Linked DNA regions of Homo sapiens: regions 1 and 3 are each reported to be linked to region 2. Evidence: microRNA targets listed by miRTarBase, many of them from high-throughput screens and not tested one by one. Region 2 holds a microRNA gene; each other region holds the end of a gene's coding sequence.

The links. Region 2 holds the annotated microRNA hsa-miR-6859-3p (UGACCCCCAUGUCGCCUCUGUAG, at 2,885-2,907, opposite strand). A microRNA usually pairs through its seed, bases 2 to 8, with sites in the 3' UTR of a target mRNA and lowers its output. Matches are read on the target gene's strand: a 7mer-m8 pairs with bases 2 to 8, a 7mer-A1 pairs with bases 2 to 7 and ends in A, and an 8mer does both.
Region 1: miRTarBase lists RAB44 as a target of hsa-miR-6859-3p. Seed matches in the 3' UTR shown: 7mer-A1 at 2,803-2,809, 7mer-m8 at 2,791-2,797 and 7mer-m8 at 2,686-2,692.
Region 3: miRTarBase lists GRINA as a target of hsa-miR-6859-3p. Seed matches in the 3' UTR shown: 7mer-m8 at 760-766.

What each region holds. Positions count from the first base shown.
Region 1 is chr6:36,731,506-36,735,623 of GRCh38, reverse strand. It overlaps RAB44 (RAB44, member RAS oncogene family), which reads right to left. Exons shown (of 14, transcript NM_001257357.2): 14 at 2,440-3,621. The coding sequence ends at 3,531. Among named protein-coding and RNA genes, the nearest start is that of RAB44, 36 kb to the right of the region's middle. RefSeq lists an enhancer at 1-364.
Region 2 is chr1:185,007-189,124 of GRCh38, forward strand. MIR6859-2 (microRNA 6859-2) reads right to left here and starts at 2,952; the gene lies at 2,885-2,952. It also overlaps the pseudogene WASH9P.
Region 3 is chr8:143,992,536-143,996,653 of GRCh38, forward strand. It overlaps GRINA (glutamate ionotropic receptor NMDA type subunit associated protein 1), which reads left to right. Exons shown (of 7, transcript NM_001009184.2): 6 at 1-73; 7 at 157-880. The coding sequence ends at 306. It also overlaps a transcript of PARP10 not described here. Among named protein-coding and RNA genes, the nearest start is that of GRINA, 4.5 kb to the left of the region's middle.

The sequences.
Region 1 (4,118 bases), not on the chromosome of region 2:
CTGAGGGCAGCTGAGGGGAGACTGGAGAGGGGGCCTCTGTGAATTCTGATGTCGGCCACCTTCCCGGGTCCCACCAGCTTCAGAGACGGCAGGAGGAGGGGAAATGAAGGACCTGTCCTGGATGAAGGCTGTCATCCAGCCACTTTCCTGGCATTTATCACTGCCTTTTCGTCTCTTTTTCCTGGTCCACACCCACCAATGACATGGACTATTACTGGAGAGGAATTGGCAGGGAGCAATACGAGGCTTCAGGGACCTGGCCCCTCCTTCCCCGAAGCATCCGCATCTTCCTGTAAGCAGTTGCATAACTTCAGAGTTAAGTCTATGGGTATCGGCGTTTGCGTTTAACACTGGCTCCAGCACTTACTTGCTACGTGACTACGGGGAAGTTACTCAGCCTCCCTATGCAGTACTTTCCTTTTCCGTAAGATGGGGGAGCACGCCTGATGGTGTGAGGGCTAAATGAATTAACACGAGCTAGGTGCTCAGAACAGTGCCTGGCATACGGTAGGCACTGGGTAAAGGAGGGATGTCATTCTGCCCCTGCTCACCCTCAGCTCCCAAAAGCCCTCTTCTCTTAGAGCTCCTGCCCAGCCTTCCTTCTCTCCCCATGCCCTCCCTTCTCACTCCACAGCCTGAGTCCCATCAGCCCAGTCCCACCCTCCTTTTCTTAATCAGACTCTGGCTAAGCCTAAATCAGAGCCTCCTTGGCTGACATGCCCCAAGAACTCACCACTTGCCTGGAAGTTCACTCTGAAGTCTACCTCAAGTTTCTCCTGCTGCTGTCGTTGCCTACTTTGTGCTGCTCTGAGGTTCCTGGGTCCTGTTCCCTGGCTTGTGAGCCCTTTGACAGCAGGAAAGGCTGGTGGTCCTTGCACAGCTGTGCCCTGCCCAGCAGGTGGATCCGGCCCAAGAAAGCCAAAAGAGGGTGCTGGGCAGTGTGGAGTTCCTCCCAGAACTCCACCTCCTGCGAACCTGAGTTGCCTGAGGCCACAACAGAGCTGAGCTGAGACGGGGAGGCCTGGGGGCCACTCCCGTACCGGGCCCCCAAACGACAGGGGCTGTCTGCTCTACTGCCTCTCCCAGGAATCACACCCTGCCTACCTGCCTCATTAATTCCCTGGCCTACAGGACAGAGATGTTGGTGCCTGCCAGGTCCCTGGGCCCCAGAGAAAGAGCCATTAGCAACTATAGGACCTGTTTCCCATCCTTATCCAGGGCCAGCATCACTCACTGCAGCCCACACCCCTCTCTCTCTCTCTCTCTCTCTCTCTCTCTCTCTCTCTCTCTCTCTCTCTCTCTCTCTCTCTGAGCACACTGAGAAACTGCTCAGTTCAGGGGCAGGCTTGTGGGCTGCGGGAGGGGACCTGAGATGGGAGAAGACATTGGGGTAAAAAGGATCAGTGAAGGGCCCAGTAAAAGAATCAGCTGGAGGGCCGGGCGCGGTGGCTCATGCCTGTAATCCCAGCACTCTGGGAGGCCGAGGCGGGTGGATTATGAGGTCAAGAGATCGAGACCATCCTGACCAACATGGTGAAACCCCGTCTCTACTAAAAATACAAAAAATTAGCTGGGTGAGGTGGCGGGCGCCTGTAGGCCCAGCTACTTGGGAGGCTGAGGCAGGAGAATGGCGTGAACCCGGGAGGTGGAGGTTGCAGTGAGCCGAGATTGCGCCCCTGTGCTCCAGCCTAGCGACTGAGTGAGACTCCGTCTCAAAAAAACAAAACAAAACAAAACAAAACAAAAACACACAAAGAATCAGCTGGACCATGGGAATCATCCACATGGAGTCTGGAGGTTGAATGGGGTCCATTAAGGGAATCTAATCCAACTTTGGCAGCTTCAGATGCTGGGATCTTCTCTACCTCACCTTTGCCAAGCATTACCTGTCTTCTTGTGCGCCTCTGGTGATGGAAGGCTCACTGCTGCTGAGACGTTCCTTTCAGAACTGAGAAGAGGGGTTGGGGCCAGGGCCTAAGACTGTGTGATGCAACAGCCCTCTGTTGCTCCCTCTTTCTCCTTCGTTCTCTCTCTCTGTAACTCTGTTCCTTGAACTGTCTTTGCTTGTCCCCCTATGAAACTGGGGTTTCCATTGATTCAGCCAGGAAATTCCCCAGTACCTGAAGGATTACAAAATACCAAACCCAGGCTGGGGGCGGTGGCTCACGCCTGTCATCCCAGCACATTGGGAGGATCACTTGAGCCCAGGAGTTTGAGACCAGCCTAAGCAACATTGCAAGACCTTGTGTTTGCAAATAGCTAAAAAATTAGCCGGATGTGGTGGCATGTGCCCATGGTCCCAGCTACTTGGGAGGCTGAGGTGGGGGAATCACTTGAGCCCAGACAGTTGAGGCTGTTGTGAGTGGCGATCATGCCAATGTACTCCAGCCTGCGCAACAGAGAGAGATCCTGTCTCAAAAAACAAACAAACAAATTCAGTGCCTGGCACATGTTGTATATTCAATTTGTGATGATGGTAAGATGTGACAGACATACAAACGAAGACCATGGCCGTCTCTCCAAGACTCTAAAGCAAGCTCTCCGAGGGCACTGGAAACCCCAGCCCTAGCTGATAAGGGGCAGCCACCATTCAGGAGGTGAATATTATGGAATTCTGGAAACTTCCACAAAAGCTCCAAATAGAAGTGTGTGAATGATTCTGAGTCTCGGCTCCCCAGCTGCTTGGACCCCCCAGCCACACCCTAGCTGCCCCTCAAATGCATCCAGAGACTGACAACTCAGGCCAAAGCCCTGTGCTTGGGGACACCATGGCATTGGAGCAGGGGGCGGGACCCCCAAATGTGACCCCTGGGAGGTGTGTTTTGTATGGTGGGGAAAGGGAGTGAGGTTGGGGCTCTGGAAGACAGGAGGGCATCGAGGCATATCAGAGGCCTTTGGAACATTACTCTTCCCAGGAACCAGATTCTGCTGGGAAGAAAGCCCATGCTTGCAAATAGAAATAGCGAGGGAGACCAGGCCAACAGCGCCCTGCCAAGCAGAGCACAGAGGGACCGCTCTAACACCGAGCAACATGTGATTAACAGGTTACACTAATTAGGAGCCAGCAGCACCCAAGGGAGCTCCTTGGGAAGTTTCTCTCCTCCTCCTCCACATCTCTTTTTTCTGATTATGTATTGAATACTGTTATTGTTGAAAATCTGAAAATACAAATATGTGTAAAATGGAAAGTAACACCCCCCCCCCACATTCTCCCTAAAATTTTACACCCACAGATGTGCGGCCAATATTTTGGTGTATTTTCCTTAAGTCGTTTTTCTAGACTTTCTTTGTTTGGAGAGTTTTGCCATACCCCTGCCCCTCAAGCCTTGTTCACTCAGCAAAGCCCTCCTTTGGAGTGTGAAAGGCAGAGGTGATGCGGCCCTGCTCTGGGATCCGAGTCCTGAGTTGAGAAGGGTTTTCCTGAACCTCCAAGCTGGTCCTCTGTGTCGTTGCTGTCCAGGAACAAAGGACAGGAGCTGAGGGACAGGAAACCCCATGGGTGTCCATCCTACCCAGGACAGGACAGGTGATCAGGAGCAACAGCCGAATCTCTTGGGCGGCCTCTTGGGGGCCACCTTCACCAGCGAGTCCTTCAGGCCTTCTTCTTGCATCCTGAGTGACCTATGTGACAGTGCCAGGCATCAGGCCTCTCTCTCACCTCCTACGGGCAGCACGGATGGGCCCATGGGTGCAGCTGGGGGGTGGGAGGCCGCACCCACAACCCCCACAACAGCTCTGCCCCTGCCCTGCATTCCACATGAGACCCGAAGAATTGAGTCACTGAGACTTTGACCTTCTCTTTCTGGCCTACTATGTGCCAGGCACTGTGCAGGACTCTGACTATGACAAAGAAGCCACCATTCCCTCCCTTGAGTAGTGAGAGAGACAGACAGGAAAAGGGGTGACTGCAGCCCGGGAATGATGGGGAGGCACACAGGGACTTCACACCAGGTCCTGGAGGGATCTGGGGAGGAAGGAGATGGTGACCGAACTGAGCCATGGACAAGGTATGCCAGCAGAAAGGGTGGGGGAGGTGCATCCCAAGCAGAGGGCCATGGCGCGGCTCAGTGCCGAGAGAGCTTGGAGGCTGGGGAAGCAAAAGAAGTCCATTCATTTCT
Region 2 (4,118 bases):
CGTCCCCCCATGGAGCACAGGCAGACAAAAGTCCCCGCCCCAGCTGTGTGGCCTCAAGCCAGCCTTCCGCTCCTTGAAGCTGGTCTCCACACAGTGCTGGTTCCGTCACCCCCTCCCAAGGAAGTAGGTCTGAGCAGCTTGTCCTGGCTGTGTCCATGTCAGAGCAACGGCCCAAGTCTGGGTCTGGGGGGGAAGGTGTCATGGAGCCCCCTAGGATTCCCAGTCGTCCTCGTCCTCCTCTGCCTGTGGCTGCTGCGGTGGCGGCAGAGGAGGGATGGAGTCTGACACGCGGGCAAAGGCTCCTCCGGGCCCCTCACCAGCCCCAGGTCCTTTCCCAGAGATGCCTGGAGGGAAAAGGCTGAGTGAGGGTGGTTGGTGGGAAACCCTGGTTCCCCCAGCCCCCGGAGACTTAAATACAGGAAGAAAAAGGCAGGACAGAATTACAAGGTGCTGGCCCAGGGCGGGCAGCGGCCCTGCCTCCTACCCTTGCGCCTCATGACCAGCTTGTTGAAGAGATCCGACATCAAGTGCCCACCTTGGCTCGTGGCTCTCACTGCAACGGGAAAGCCACAGACTGGGGTGAAGAGTTCAGTCACATGCGACCGGTGACTCCCTGTCCCCACCCCCATGACACTCCCCAGCCCTCCAAGGCCACTGTGTTTCCCAGTTAGCTCAGAGCCTCAGTCGATCCCTGACCCAGCACCAGGCACTGATGAGACAGCGGCGGTTTGAGGAGCCACCTCCCAGCCACCTCGGGGCCAGGGCCAGGGTGTGCAGCACCACTGTACGATGGGGAAACTGGCCCAGAGAGGTGAGGCAGCTTGCCTGGGGTCACAGAGCAAGGCAAAAGCAGCGCTGGGTACAAGCTCAAAACCATAGTGCCCAGGGCACTGCCGCTGCAGGCGCAGGCATCGCATCACACCAGTGTCTGCGTTCACAGCAGGCATCATCAGTAGCCTCCAGAGGCCTCAGGTCCAGTCTCTAAAAATATCTCAGGAGGCTGCAGTGGCTGACCATTGCCTTGGACCGCTCTTGGCAGTCGAAGAAGATTCTCCTGTCAGTTTGAGCTGGGTGAGCTTAGAGAGGAAAGCTCCACTATGGCTCCCAAACCAGGAAGGAGCCATAGCCCAGGCAGGAGGGCTGAGGACCTCTGGTGGCGGCCCAGGGCTTCCAGCATGTGCCCTAGGGGAAGCAGGGGCCAGTTGGCAAGAGCAGGGGGTGGGCAGAAAGCACCCGGTGGACTCAGGGCTGGAGGGGAGGAGGCGATCTTGCCCAAGGCCCTCCGACTGCAAGCTCCAGGGCCCGCTCACCTTGCTCCTGCTCCTTCTGCTTCTTCTTCTCCAGCTTTCGCTCCTTCATGCTGCGCAGCTTGGCCTTGCCGATGCCCCCAGCTTGGCGGATGGACTCTAGCAGAGTGGCCCGGCCACCGGAGGGGTCGACCACTTCCCTGGGAGCTCCCTGGACTGGAGCCAGGAGGTGGGGAACAGGGCAAGGAGGAAAGGCTGCTCAGGCAGGGCTGGGGAAGCTTACTGTGTCCAAGAGCCTGCTGGGAGGGAAGTCACCTCCCCTCAAACGAGGAGCCCCGCGCTGGGGAGGCCGGACCTTTGGAGACTGTGTGGGGGGGCCTGGGCACTGACTTCTGCAACCACCTGAGCGCGGGCATCCTGTGTGCAGATACTCCCTGCTTCCTCTCTAGCCCCCACCCTGCAGAGCTGGACCCCAGAGCTAGCCATGCTCTGACAGTCTCAGTTGCACACATGAGCCAGCAGAGGGGTTTTGTGCCACTTCTGGATGCTAGGGTTACACTGGGAGATACAGCAGTGAAGCTAAAATGAAAAATGTGTTGCTGTAGTTTGTTATTAGACCCCTTCTTTCCATTGGTTTAATTAGGAACGGGGAACCCAGAGCCTCACTTGTTCAGGCTCCCTCTGCCCTAGAAGTGAGAAGTCCAGAGCTCTACAGTTTGAAAACCACTATTTTATGAACCAAGTAGAACAAGATATTTGAAATGGGAACTATTCAAAAAATTGAGAATTTCTGACCACTTAATAAACCCACAGAAAATCCACCCGAGTGCACTGAGCACACCAGAAATCAGGTGGCCTCAAAGAGCTGCTCCCACCTGAAGGAGACGCGCTGCTGCTGCTGTCGTCCTGCCTGGCGCCTTGGCCTACAGGGGCCGCGGTTGAGGGTGGGAGTGGGGGTGCACTGGCCAGCACCTCAGGAGCTGGGGGTGGTGGTGGGGGCGGTGGGGGTGGTGTTAGTACCCCATCTTGTAGGTCTGAAACACAAAGTATGGGGTGTCTAGGGAAGAAGGTGTGTGACCAGGGAGGTCCCCGGCCCAGCTCCCATCCCAGAACCCAGCTCACCTACCTTGAGAGGCTCGGCTACCTCAGTGTGGAAGGTGGGCAGTTCTGGAATGGTGCCAGGGGCAGAGGGGGCAATGCCGGGGCCCAGGTCGGCAATGTACATGAGGTCGTTGGCAATGCCGGACAGGTCAGGCAGGTAGGATGGAACATCAATCTCAGGCACCTGGCCCAGGTCTGGCACATAGAAGTAGTTCTCTGGGACCTGCAAGATTAGGCAGGGACATGTGAGAGGTGACAGGGACCTGCAGGGGCAGCCAACAAGACCTTGTGTGCACCTCCCATGGGTGGAATAAGGGGCCCAACAGCCTTGACTGGAGAGGAGCTCTGGCAAGGCCCTGGGCCACTGCACCTGTCTCCACCTCTGTCCCACCCCTCCCACCTGCTGTTCCAGCTGCTCTCTCTTGCTGATGGACAAGGGGGCATCAAACAGCTTCTCCTCTGTCTCTGCCCCCAGCATCACATGGGTCTTTGTTACAGCACCAGCCAGGGGGTCCAGGAAGACATACTTCTTCTACCTACAGAGGCGACATGGGGGTCAGGCAAGCTGACACCCGCTGTCCTGAGCCCATGTTCCTCTCCCACATCATCAGGGGCACAGCGTGCACTGTGGGGTCCCAGGCCTCCCGAGCCGAGCCACCCCAGTCACCCCCTGGCTCCTGGCCTATGTGCTGTACCTGTGTCTGATGACCTGGGTCCCCACTAAGCCAGGCCGGGCCTCCCGCCCACACCCCTCGGCCCTGCCCTCTGGCCATACAGGTTCTCGGTGGTGTTGAAGAGCAGCAAGGAGCTGACAGAGCTGATGTTGCTGGGAAGACCCCCAAGTCCCTCTTCTGCATCGTCCTCGGGCTCCGGCTTGGTGCTCACGCACACAGGAAAGTCCTTCAGCTTCTCCTGGGAGGGCCAGGATGGCCAAGGGATGGTGAATATTTGGTGCTGGGCCTAATCAGCTGCCATCCCATCCCAGTCAGCCTCCTCTGGGGGACAGAACCCTATGGTGGCCCCGGCTCCTCCCCAGTATCCAGTCCTCCTGGTGTGTGACAGGCTATATGCGCGGCCAGCAGACCTGCAGGGCCCGCTCGTCCAGGGGGCGGTGCTTGCTCTGGATCCTGTGCGGGGGCGTCTCTGCAGGCCAGGGTCCTGGGCGCCCGTGAAGATGGAGCCATATTCCTGCAGGCGCCCTGGAGCAGGGTACTTGGCACTGGAGAACACCTGTGGACACAGGGACAAGTCTGAGGGGGCCCCAAGAGGCTCAGAGGGCTAGGATTGCTTGGCAGGAGAGGGTGGAGTTGGAAGCCTGGGCGAGAAGAAAGCTCAAGGTACAGGTGGGCAGCAGGGCAGAGACTGGGCAGCCTCAGAGGCACGGGGAAATGGAGGGACTGCCCAGTAGCCTCAGGACACAGGGGTATGGGGACTACCTTGATGGCCTTCTTGCTGCCCTTGATCTTCTCAATCTTGGCCTGGGCCAAGGAGACCTTCTCTCCAATGGCCTGCACCTGGCTCCGGCTCTGCTCTACCTGCTGGGAGATCCTGCCATGGAGAAGATCACAGAGGCTGGGCTGCTCCCCACCCTCTGCACACCTCCTGCTTCTAACAGCAGAGCTGCCAGGCCAGGCCCTCAGGCAAGGGCTCTGAAGTCAGGGTCACCTACTTGCCAGGGCCGATCTTGGTGCCATCCAGGGGGCCTCTACAAGGATAATCTGACCTGCAGGGTCGAGGAGTTGACGGTGCTGAGTTCCCTGCACTCTCAGT
Region 3 (4,118 bases), not on the chromosome of region 2:
TCTCTGCATCTTCATCCGGAACCGCATCCTGGAGATCGTGTACGCCTCACTGGGCGCTCTGCTCTTCACCTGCGTGAGTGAGGGGTGACCTTGGCCGGGGGCGGGATGCTGGGCAGGCAGGCTTGTCCCTCAACACCACTGTGCTGTCACCTCCAGTTCCTCGCAGTGGACACCCAGCTGCTACTGGGGAACAAGCAGCTGTCCCTGAGCCCAGAAGAGTATGTGTTTGCTGCGCTGAACCTGTACACAGACATCATCAACATCTTCCTGTACATCCTCACCATCATTGGCCGCGCCAAGGAGTAGCCGAGCTCCAGCTCGCTGTGCCCGCTCAGGTGGCACGGCTGGCCTGGACCCTGCCCCTGGCACGGCAGTGCCAGCTGTACTTCCCCTCTCTCTTGTCCCCAGGCACAGCCTAGGGAAAAGGATGCCTCTCTCCAACCCTCCTGTATGTACACTGCAGATACTTCCATTTGGACCCGCTGTGGCCACAGCATGGCCCCTTTAGTCCTCCCGCCCCCGCCAAGGGGCACCAAGGCCACGTTTCCGTGCCACCTCCTGTCTACTCATTGTTGCATGAGCCCTGTCTGCCAGCCCACCCCAGGGACTGGGGGCAGCACCAGGTCCCGGGGAGAGGGATTGAGCCAAGAGGTGAGGGTGCACGTCTTCCCTCCTGTCCCAGCTCCCCAGCCTGGCGTAGAGCACCCCTCCCCTCCCCCCCACCCCCCTGGAGTGCTGCCCTCTGGGGACATGCGGAGTGGGGGTCTTATCCCTGTGCTGAGCCCTGAGGGCAGAGAGGATGGCATGTTTCAGGGGAGGGGGAAGCCTTCCTCTCAATTTGTTGTCAGTGAAATTCCAATAAATGGGATTTGCTCTCTGCCTTCCCCTGGTCACTCTTCTCCCTGCCACTTTCAACATGAAGTTGGGAGGGGCTCCAGGCCCTCCCTGCTGATGGAGACACAGGACCAGAAATGAATAGTGGAGATTAATACAGTGCCAAGCCTCTGCCCACACACAGCTACATCATAAGGTGTGTGTTGGGTTCCCAACTGATGGACAGAGACCCTGGGGTGCCCAGAGTGAGTTAAGCCTGTGCTGGGGTACCCCAATGGTAAGTGGCCTGGCTGTGTCTACCAGGTGCTCCGTGGAGATGGCACGGTATAGCCGCCTCACTCTTCTGTCGCCTGGGCCAGCGGCACAGGTCATTGGCCTGCCCCAGGGCAGCCTGCCATGCTCCTTGGGCGCTCCTTGGGCCTCCCCAGCTCTGTGCAGTCCATCTGTGTGGGCACCCTGATATTCCACCCAGGCCTGCCTCTCTCCAGCCTCCCCATGAGAAACACAGGCTGGAGATCCCGTCCAAGAGCTGGACAGAGACTGAGGGCTCAGCCATTTGGGCCCCTTGGCCTGCCCAGGCCCGGTCCTTTGGAGCCCTCAGCCCCAGCCTGCAGTGCGTTTCCTGCCCTGTGACGCCTGCTGCTCCTGCAGGGGGTCCCTCCATTGCCTGGGACCTGGCTGGTCTGAGCCCTGCTGAGCTCTCACACCCCGCGGCTCTAGGCCCAGAGGCAGCTTTGGACTTGGATATTCCCACTGCAGCCTCGAGGCTCTGCATGCAGCGTGGCCTGAGGATCTCTCAAGGCCCCTCCCCACTGCCCAGTCAGTCCCCTTAGCACCTCTGTGTACGAAGCCAGCACCACCCTGATGTCCGCGGGCACCGCAGTTGTGGGGTGCCCAGAGCCAAGCTCATCCTTCCTGAAACCTGCTCCTGCATTATCTCCAGGCCAGAGCAGGGGCTGCCCCGCTTCCCTCTCCCTCCCAACCTCCCCTGCCTCACCTGGCCTCCTCGCCTGCCCCGCCCTCCACCAGGACCCTAGCGGTGTGTTTCTGAAACATCAATCACATCCGTTGCACTACCCGCCTGCCTAAAACCCTCGGTGGTGCCCTCAGGATGAAGTCCACGCTCCTTAGCCTGGTACGCGGGCCCTGCCATCTGCCCACTGGTGGCTCCAGCTGCCCTCCTGTTGTCCTTTTGCCTCTCAGCCGGGGGCCCTGACCCTGCACAACCTGAGTCACGAGTGGGCTCCCTGCTGCAGTGCTGTCATTGTTCACAGACAGTCCCTCTGCCAGTGTGGGGACACACACTGCCTTCCCAGCCACGAGGGCACCTCCTGGAGTCCACCTTGCCCTCTGCAGCGGCTAATCACATGCTGAGCAGCGAGTGGGCCACACGGCTCCCCCTTCCCCCACCTCCCCTTCCGGCTATTTCCTGAGCAGGTGCAGTTCCTCCTCTGGGTGCCCGCCTGTGCTCCAGCATGCTGAGGAGGAGAAAGAACCTGCCTAGCTCTAGCTCCCAGACCCCTCAGGATTTTATACGAAAGAGGAGAATAAAGTGTTTATGTGGCTAACGAGAACGTCAGGGCGGGGGCAGGGGTGGTCTCGGGAGTAACTGCCAAGTGAAATGTGCCAGGACATTGTTTTCTTGAGGAGTTTGAGACGGACACAAACTCTTGGCTGAGAGGGAGAGGCTTTAGTGAGGCTCCCTGGGAACGGCAAGCTCCAGAGGTGTGGGACAGGGCCAGGGGGTGGAGGGTCCACAGCAAAGACCCCCACTGCCAGAGAGAAGGCCAGGGCTGAACACAGGAGGGCTTGGGCCTATCCTGCAGGTGAAGGGCACTCAGGCAGGGGCCACAGCTGGGTTTGTGTTTAGGAAGATGAGTCTGGCAATAGACGGTGCAGGGGAAGTCATGGGGCTGTGAACAGGTGAAGTGGGCCACAAGGAAGCCATTGAGACATGCCAGAGAGGAGCTGGGAGCACAGACGCCTCCAGAAGCATCGGGAGGTGCCAATTAAGCCAGGCTGGGCACAGCCGAAGGCCAGTGGGATGTGTCTGACAACTGAGAGGTCTGCTATCTGCTGTGTCCCAGCCAGGGAGTGAAATGAGTCCGAGTACGTGGTGATGTGGCCAGGCAGATGAATCGGCACGGGGTGCTCACATGGAGTCATGAGGCTGAACGCACCTGTAGCAATTGTGAGGCCACCACACTGATTCTTCAGGTAGAAAGAAGACCAGTCGCTGACATCTGGGAGCTGATCTGGTCCTATCTTGTAGGCCTCAGTGTTGCTAGGAGCTGTCCTGGCACTCACAGATAGAGGCCTTGGTGTTGCTAGGAGCTGTCCTGGCACTCACAGATAGAGCCCTCAGTGTCTCCTGGTTAAAATTGCATAGAACATCAACATCAGACTACTCTGACCATGATGGATCAATACAAAAACAAGACCCCTCTGTTATCACTCTGAACACAGACAAAACATGGGCACTGTCCAAGCTGTAAAAAGGGCAAGCAGTGCCCTGTCCCAGCCAGTCTGAGTGGCTGCTGCCTCTTCACAGCTGACAGCTCTAGCCTGGCTCTAGTCTGTCCTCCTTCCAAATACGATGCATTGAGATTCCCAGTTGCAGAATGACGCCTGCTTCCTGACAGCACCAATCCAGAGCAGAGTCCCGCTTCCCTAAACCCTCCCCCAGATTACTCAAGCCAAATCCTGTAAGAAGTCCTTTCCAGCACCCTCTTAACACGACGCCCCAGGGTGTGGACGCTCCCCCACGATGAGCAGCCACGGGCGTGTTCAAGCATGGGCGTGTCCCCGGGGCTTCACAAGGAGCACTGACACAGGTCACTGACTATATGAAGGCCAAAAAGAGACTTAAATAAAGGAATTTATTTCTCAATCAAAAAACAAGTTATATACGTAAGCAAATATTAAACCCACACTTGATTTCAAGATTAAACAACACAGACATCTATGGAACAAAATGTCCAAGTCTCCACCCCATTCCCCACCCTGCAAAGCAACGCTGTCAATCAACGGTGCCTGCTGAAACCCTAACAGACAGTTGGGGCCAGCTCTGGACCCCAGCTCAGGTGAAACCAGCACGGGAACCCCATTCCACTGCCTCTGGCTAACTGGGGCCACTGTTCTGCAGCTCTGGATTGGAAGCACCTTCAGAACAGAGACTGTGCTCTGTGAGTTTTAACATCCAGCCTAGCACCTAGTCCAGGGCCTGGCACACCACAGGCGTCAAACGTGAAAGGAAGGAATGACCTTTTCACGGCATGATCAGC